Linked DNA regions of Homo sapiens: regions 1 and 2 are each linked to region 3. Evidence: fine-mapped expression QTL. A gene starts in region 3. Each other region holds a variant in brackets. All regions are shown on one strand. Distances are between the middles of the regions.

Evidence for each region. PIP is the estimated chance that this variant, and not a neighbour inherited with it, causes the effect. A credible set is the group of variants that fine-mapping cannot tell apart.
Region 1: its variant is the best candidate, but not a certain one, in a credible set for the expression of IL16 in subcutaneous fat (GTEx, PIP 0.74).
Region 2: its variant is the best candidate, but not a certain one, in a credible set for the expression of IL16 in monocytes (Quach 2016, PIP 0.55).

Annotation. Positions count from the first base shown.
Region 1 is chr15:81,246,472-81,249,140 of GRCh38, forward strand. The region is part of intron 2 of IL16 (interleukin 16); the gene reads left to right. Among named protein-coding and RNA genes, the nearest start is that of IL16, 51 kb to the left of the region's middle. The variant T/A (reference allele first, on the strand shown) is at 1,199.
Region 2 is chr15:81,287,872-81,290,540 of GRCh38, forward strand. IL16 (interleukin 16) reads left to right here. Exons shown (of 19, transcript NM_172217.5): 11 at 2,582-2,669. Among named protein-coding and RNA genes, the nearest start is that of STARD5, 35 kb to the right of the region's middle. The variant A/ATGTGTGTG (reference allele first, on the strand shown) is at 958.
Region 3 is chr15:81,195,320-81,197,988 of GRCh38, forward strand. IL16 (interleukin 16) reads left to right here and starts at 1,560. Exons shown (of 19, transcript NM_172217.5): 1 at 1,560-1,833.

The DNA.
Region 1 (2,669 bases), 51 kb after region 3:
GTGGTAAATGATTTCATTTATTTTCCAGTGTTCAACAAATCTTTGAATCCCTGGATTCAGTCGACTATGATTTTATTTGTAATTTTTATATTCATGAGTGTGATGGCCTTGGAATTTTTCTCCTGTACTGGTTCCAAGGTTACACTGACCTCACACTGATACCATGCTCATCTCTTTTACTGATATCAATGTTTTCTTTTTACTTGCCAGGTAACTAAGTTTGCCACCCTTCTAAAATGTGAGGTGTGGTTTCTCATTATCTACATTCTGGAATTCGTATTCTAGGTTTGGAATTATTTATTTCTTCAATGATTTATAGAACTTACTGTTTAAAACCATCTGGTACCAGTGTTTTCTTTGTGGAAAGAGTTAAAACCACTCTGTTTCTTTAATTTTTACAGGCCCCTAAAAGTTTCCTTGTCTTTCTTGAGTTGATTTTGATACAGTTTATTTTCCTCAGAACTTTCTCATTTAATCTAGTTGTTCAAATTTATGCTATACAGTTATTTGTAATATCTTCTTGTCATCTTTTAATCTTTACTGTATTTGTAATTGTGTCCCCTTTCAACCCTCATTTTATTTGTGTTTTCTTTCTTTTCTTTTCCTTTTTTTTTTTTTTTTTTTTGATCTTGAGTGACCTTGCTGGAGCGTCATCAGTATTTTAAAATCTTTTCACAGAACCAGCTTATAATTTTGTCAACTCCCCTATTATACGTGTATTTTTATTTAATAAATTTTGTCCATATCTTTATCGTTTTCTCTACTTTCTTTGATGATTAGCCCATTATTTTCAGCTTTTCTTCCTTTTTAATATAAGCACTTGAGATAACTTTTCCTGTAAGCACTGTTTTATCTTTAGCTGCATTCCACAAGATTTAATATGTAAAATTTTATTATCATTCAGTTCTAAATGCCTTTAAATTTCCAGTATGATTTCTTCTTTGACCCATGAGTTATTTGGAGGTATGTTTCTTGATTTTCAAATATGTAGTTATTTTCCAGTTACCTCGAAGACAAAAATCAAAACCTTTTTCTTTTCGAGTAACTACATATTCACAAGAAGTTGCAAAGATAGTACAGAGAAATCTCATGTACCCTTCACCCAGTTTTCCCCATTGGTTCCCTCTTACATAACTATAGTAAAACATCAAAACCACAAATTTGACATTGCTATGGTGTGTGTGTAGTTCTATGCTAT[T/A]TTATCACTTGTAACCTCTACTTCAGCGAAGATACCAAAGTGCTCCCTCGCCACTAAGATCTCCCTAATGCCACCCTTCAGAATCACACCCCACCCCTCTTCCCACCATCCTTAACCTCTAGCAGCAACTCATCTGTTTTCTCTCTCCCCAGTTAACATTTTTAAGTGCCTTATAATTAATTGTGGTGTTGTCAGAAAGCATGGAGTGGGTCATTCCAGTTATTCAGAATTGTTGAGAATTATTTGATGACCCCGTATAAGATTATTTTCATATTTTGTTTATGTTTAAAGAGACATTGTATATAGCTATTAACCTTACTGCTTTTTGTCTGCTTGATCTATCAGTTTCTTAAGGAGTCGGTTAAAAATCTCATGCTAGATTTTCCTTTTAGTTATTTCAGCATTATGAGGCTATGTTATAAGGTGCGAACATTTAGAATTGTTATATATTCTTTATGATTGAAAGCAGTTATAATTTATATCCTGAGTTTATCTCTATTATTTTTGTTTGAATCTACCTTGTCTATAAAGTGGTACTAGCTTTAATTTTATTAGCAGTTGTCTGAGCTATCTACCCACCTATCTGTCTATGTCTGTATCTATCTACTTCTATCTAGTTTTTATTCTTTTGTTTTCAACTACACACACACCTACTTATGTATGTGTGAATGTGTATGTGAATGACTTTTTCTTTTTGAACTGTTTGTCTTCTTTTATTTTACCTGTATATTTCTTAAATGGTTTATGGTTGGATTTACAATGTAAATCTGTCTTGACAATCTTTGCTTCTTAGATGAATCTCTTTAAAATTATTTTTATTATTATATTTAAAATTATTAAAAATTATCTTTAAAATTATATTTATCTTTAAAATTATATTTAACCTCTTAAATTATAAGTAAAATTATTTCATGTTTAATACTTATTCCATTTTCCCTGTTTTATTCTCTGCTTTCTTATCTTTTTATTGATTATATTTTCTCATTCCCTTTCTCCTCCTCTATTGATTCTGTTTCTAATTCTATTTCTGTGATTTTTTTTCTTTCTTTCTTTTTTTTTTTTTTTTTTTGAGGCAGAGTCTCACTCTATCACCCAGGCTGGAGCGCAGTGGTGCAGTCTCCATTCACGGCAAACTCCACCCCCTGGGTTCAAGCCGTTCTCCTGCCTCAGCCTCCCAAGTGGCTGGGATTACAGGCGCCCACCACCACACCTTGCTAATTTTTGTATTTTTAGTAGAGTTGGGGTTTTGCCATGTTGCCCAGGCTGGTCTTGAACTCCTGAGCTCAAGTGATCTGCCCGCTTCTGCATCCCAAAGTGCTGGGATTACAGACAGACATAAGCCACCGCACCTGGACCTATTTCTGTGATTTTATGGTGAACTCAGAAAATTTGGCATGTATATGAAGGTTTTCAAAGTGCAAAAGTTATTAATTTTTACTTTTACCCTCTTCCTGAATAACAGAAAAACCAT
Region 2 (2,669 bases), 93 kb after region 3:
TTGGCCTAAATCTCTGGACAATACAAGAAAAGAAAGAGGTCCCAATTAATTTGTCATTTCCTCCTGCTGCTTTTAGGACTACGGCAGAAAATCAGTGGAGTAGGGCGTCAGGTTGTGGGCAAATGCTGTAGCCCTGGGCTTAAGGAATGTGCATTCTCCCAGAGACATGGGACACACACAGAGAGGCCACAGAGGTGAGGGCCTTGAGAGTGAGGGAGCTGGAGTTCCAGCTGCTCAGATAAGGGAGCCAGGCCAGAAAGGACAGGTAAGGTTTAGAGCAGCAGAAAGACGAAGACACCCTAGGCCGTGGAGATCCAGGGGCACAGGCATAGGGCAGAGAGAAGAGAGCCAGGCCCAGCAGCAGAATGCCTGGCATGTGTCCAGTCTGCTGCTTGCTTATGGTTAATTTGGGCAACTCATCTAACCTCCAAGAGCCTCTGGTTCCTCAACTCTGACATAGGGGAGTGGTCTTTACCTTACAGGACTGTTGTGGATGGTAACTCTCCTCTAGTAAGAGTTTACCATCTGCCAGGCATTGTGCCGCAGACTTTAAATGATTTATTTATTGTTGTTTATTGTGGTAAAATACACATAACATAAAATTTACCATCTTAACCATTTTTTAAGTGTACAGTTCAGTGGCATTAAGGACATTCTCATTGTTGTGCAACCATTGCCACCATCCGTCTCCAGAACTCTTTCCATCTTTCAGAATTTAAACTCTACCAGTTAAACAAGTCCCTATGTTCTCCTACCAGCAAATCCTGGGAACCACCATTTTACTTTCTGTCTCTGTGATTTTGACTACTCTACGTTCATCGAAGTGGAATCATATAAAATGGGTCCTTTTGTGTCTGCCTTATTTGACTTCGCGTAATGTCCTCAAGGTTCATTTATGTTGTAGCACGGGCCAGAATTTCCTTCCTTTTTAAGGTCGAATAATCTTCTAGTATGTGT[A/ATGTGTGTG]TGTGTGTGTGTGTGTGTGTGCGTGTGTGTGTATCACATGCTGTTTATCATCTGTTTTTGGGTACTTGGGTTGTTTCCACCTTTTGACTATTGTGAATAATGCTACAATGAACGTGGAGTACAGATTCCTCTGAGATACTGACTTCCCTTCTTTTAGGGTATATACCCAGAAGTGGAATTGCTGGGTCATATGGTAATTCTATTTTTAAGTTTTTGAGGAGCCTTCAAACTATTTTCCACAGTGGCTACACCATTTTACATTCTTATCAACAGAGCCCAAGGGTCCCGATTTCTCCATATCCTTGCCAATACTTTGTTATTTTCTTTTCTTTTTTTGAGACTGAGTCTCACTCTGTCACCCAGGCTCGAGCGCAGTGGCACGATCTTGGCTCACTGCACTGGGTTCAAGTGATTCTCCCACCTCAGCCTCCCTAGTAGCAGGGATTATAGGTGTGTACCACTGCACAGGCTAATTTTTGTATTTTTAGTAGCGATGGGCTTTCACCATGTTGGTCAGCCTGGTCTCGAACTCCTGACCTCAAGTGATCTGCCTGCCTCAGCCTCCCAGAGTGCTGGGATTAGAAGCATGAGCTACCATGCCCAGCCTCTTTTCTTTTTGTTTATAGTAGCCATCCTAATGTCCTAATGTGTGTGAGGTGGTAACTCAGTGTGGTTGTGATTTGCATTTACCTAATCATTAGTGATGTTGAGCATTTTTTCATTTGCTTTTTGGCTGTTTGTATATCTTCTTTGAAGAAATGTCTATTCAGGTTCTGTGCCCAGTTTTTAATCAGGTTGTTTTGTTGTTGTTGTTGTTGCTGAGTTGTAGGAGTTCTTTATATAATCTGCAACTCAACTATTTATCTGAAATATGATTTGCGAATATTTTCTCCAATTCTATGAGTTGCCTTTTCAATCTGTTGATGATGTCCTTTTGATGCACAGAAGTTTTTGATTTTCACATAGTCCAATTTATCTATTTTTTTGTTTCCTGTACTTTTGATGTCAAATAATTTATTTTTAAAAAACCTGTCCTCATTTTGAAGTGGGTTTTATTATTGTTATTATTTTACAGAAGGAAGAAATGGAGGCTCAGGAGGTTAAGTAACTTGTCTAGGTGTTCACACCTAGACAGTAGAGGAACCGGGACTAGAACACAAGCCTTTTTGACTCTAGGACTCATACTCTTAACTATTACTCCAAAGTGATAATAAACTGTGAGTCACAGCTCAGACAGTATAATAGTGATTGTGATTATTACGATATTGTTGATAATGATGATGTCATGACAGCATTGCCAAGAACGGACTAGCTCATAGAGATAACCTATGAAGTGGTAACTTTGCCTAGAATTTTCCAGCAAGTAGTGGGGAGAAGGTTGGAGAGTTGAGGGGGCCTCCTTGGGAACCCCTGCATTGATAGACTTTGGACTTTATCTAGAAGATACTGAGGAACCATTGATTCCCGGGGTATTTCTGGAAATGGAATTCATCAGCTATTTGCAGAGTGGGTTGAAATAAAATAATTTAGAATCCAGTGGCCCAGCTTTGGAGCTGGTACGGGGCTGGGAGCCTGATGCAGGAGCTTCTACTGTTTGTTTGAGGAGATGACTGATATTTTCTAGGTCTCTGAACAGCAACTCAAAGAAGCTGTGGCCCAGGCTGTGGAAAACACCAAGTTTGGAAAGGAGAGGCATCAGTGGAGTCTGGAAG
Region 3 (2,669 bases):
GCTCCTCAGCCTCTCTGCCAGAGCAAGATGGAAGTGGGGCCTGAGTCTGTCCTGGCCCCACCGCACCCAGGCCATTGTGAGAGAGATTGTGGGTGTGAGCTGAGCAGGCGACACTGACAGAGGCGCTCACTCTCTGCAATTTAGAAATTCCTTCACTGCACTCCAGACTCACTCCAGACTCAGCCCTACAATGTCCCCTGTGCCTGCTGACAAAGGCAGCTTTATCCCCAGAGTGCTCCCTCCTCCCGTGCTTCCCTTGGGACCGTGGGCCTGTGTTCTCCAGCAGCAGCGGCTAGATCTTTGCAGCCTTGCATGGAATTTCAAGGGCTTCCTACAGGTTGCACCTACACCCTCATTAAAGCCCCCAGGAAGCCCTGAAACATTTGGTGCTGAGCGTTGGGAAACATTCCATTCTTTAGAAGAGAGGTCCATACAAAAACCTCAGCCTAGCATGTACACAGGGCTCACAGAGACTGAGCTTAGGAGAGATGTGTGGGATGCTCTTTGCGGGGCAGATGGATTAAATGCCACCTTATGATTAGATTCTCCAAGGGGCTACGTGGGGGAAAGGCACTCTGGTCTCATGACACTAATGCCAACAGGACACACACAAAAGTGCCCCATTCTTTTATGCTGCAGTTTTCAACATGCTCTGTATACGTTAGGTCATGGGCTCTCGCACCTGAGCACGCACCAAAATCACCTGGAGGCTTTGTGAAAACAGAGTGCCAGAGGTGCTGCTTCAGGAGGTCTAGGCCAGGGCCTGAGAACTTGCATTTCTAGCAGATGCTGCTGATGCAGCTGGCTTGAGGACCACTGAGTTACATAAGCTTCTGAGAGCCAGTCTGTTGTTTTTGGGAAAGGGTGGCACAGACAAGAAATGAAATGCTATGGAAAAAGCCTGGGCTTTGGAGACAGGTGGATTTTGACTTGCTAACTTGCTAACTGTGTGACCTTGGGGAAATTCCACGGCACGTAGTAGGTGTTTAATGAACGTTTGTGCAGTGGCTTTCTTTGTCTGCAAAGCAGGTGATATATTTACCAGATTGATGGCAGGATTGTATGTGATGACTTTTTTCCTCTTTTTATTAAATTTTTATATAATTTGAGAGGAGTTCTTGCTATGGTTTGCCCGGGCTTGTCTTGAATCCCCCGGCTCAAGTGATCCTTCTGCCTCAGCCTCCTGAGTAGCTGGGATTATAGGCACGTGCCACAGCTTCCAGCATGTGATGAGGTTTATAGAAAGCTCCTAGCAGCGTGCCAGGCACATTGCAGGCACCGAGTCATGTCTGCTACCTTTCGGCTCTCCTAGTCATTTCTGTGTTGTCCAAAGAAGGCAGGGGCAACTGGGCTGGACCAAGGAACCTCACTGTGGTTCTGTGGCTCTGCACTGGGTTTGCCTCCTGGGTGTTGCCGGCCAGCCCAGCAGATGGTGGACCTTGTTCTGAGGCTGAGCTTCTCAGCACTGGCAGCCCCCCTTTTTGGATCAAGCCTTTTCACGTGGAGCAGTCAGATGGCTCAGATCAGGAGTCTTCGAGCAAATCCATGCCAGGTGGGACACATTTGTCCTGAGTCACCTGTCCAGAGCAGGTGGTGAATATTGTGTCCTACTCACGGCATCTCAACTATCGGAGCCTGGGATCTGACTCAAAGGCCGGCCTCCGTCTGAGAACTGAGCGTCCATTTCTCAATCCTTGCCGGCTCTGACCCAGGCCTGGGCCACAGGCTGTCCGGGAATAAGTGGTGCTGCAATCCCTGCTGGGCAGATGGAGAGAGGAGCAAGGGAGATGGCAGCCCCGGGGGACTGTGCATAGGGAGGTAGGTGGGCACCAGGTGAGTGAATGTCTGTCAGGCAGCTGCTCTGTCCAGGTGGCCGTTACCGGAGGGAGGAAGCTGGCCTCTCTGACCTGAATGGGGAGGGTCTTGGTTGCTAGGACGTAACTTCATATTTGGAAGTGGTGCTGGGGTCAGGGGCAGGAGCAGAAGCCAGGATTGTGTTGGTAGGAATCTCTGTGTCACCATGTCACAGTTAGGTACAGGAGGAAGCAGCTTCAGAAGGCCAGAGCGGGCAGAGGGATATCGCTTGACCTGGCTCTGCAGCACGGGGAGAATTTGGTCCTGAGATTTCTGACTTTTCAGCCTCGTCTCATCCTTGGCAATGGGGTGTGGAAGGAGGTGGAGGAAAGGAAGGCAGCAGGAGAGAGAAAGGCCACGGGGCACCTGATGGGGGCTTCTCTGCTGCCTGGCCAGACTCCTTTTCTCCAAAGTGGGCACAGCGGGTGGGCATCTCTGCAGATTGACCATGGGAAAAGTGTTCACTCTGCTTGCTTTTTGATAAGGGTCCCGTGACTAATTCCTGCATTGGTAGGTCCCAGGATTGGTGTTTTTTTGTTTTTGTTTTTTGTTTGTTTGTTTTTTTCTTTTTTGGTCCATAGCAAGTTTGCTTTCTGTAGCTGGAGAATGAGGTAACAGCATAAGAATAGAGGTTCCCTGTGGAATACAGGGAAGCATCTTCTCCTCCTGCCCTTATCAGGTGAAATCCTCCCACTTCAGGCTGAGCCATACAAAGACGACCCCTTTGTCCCAGGAGGCCAGTTCAAGCTCCCACTGGGTTCCTGGAAGCAGCCTGGGAGCTGCCGTCTCTGTGGCTCCCCTTCCTATTTCTCCAG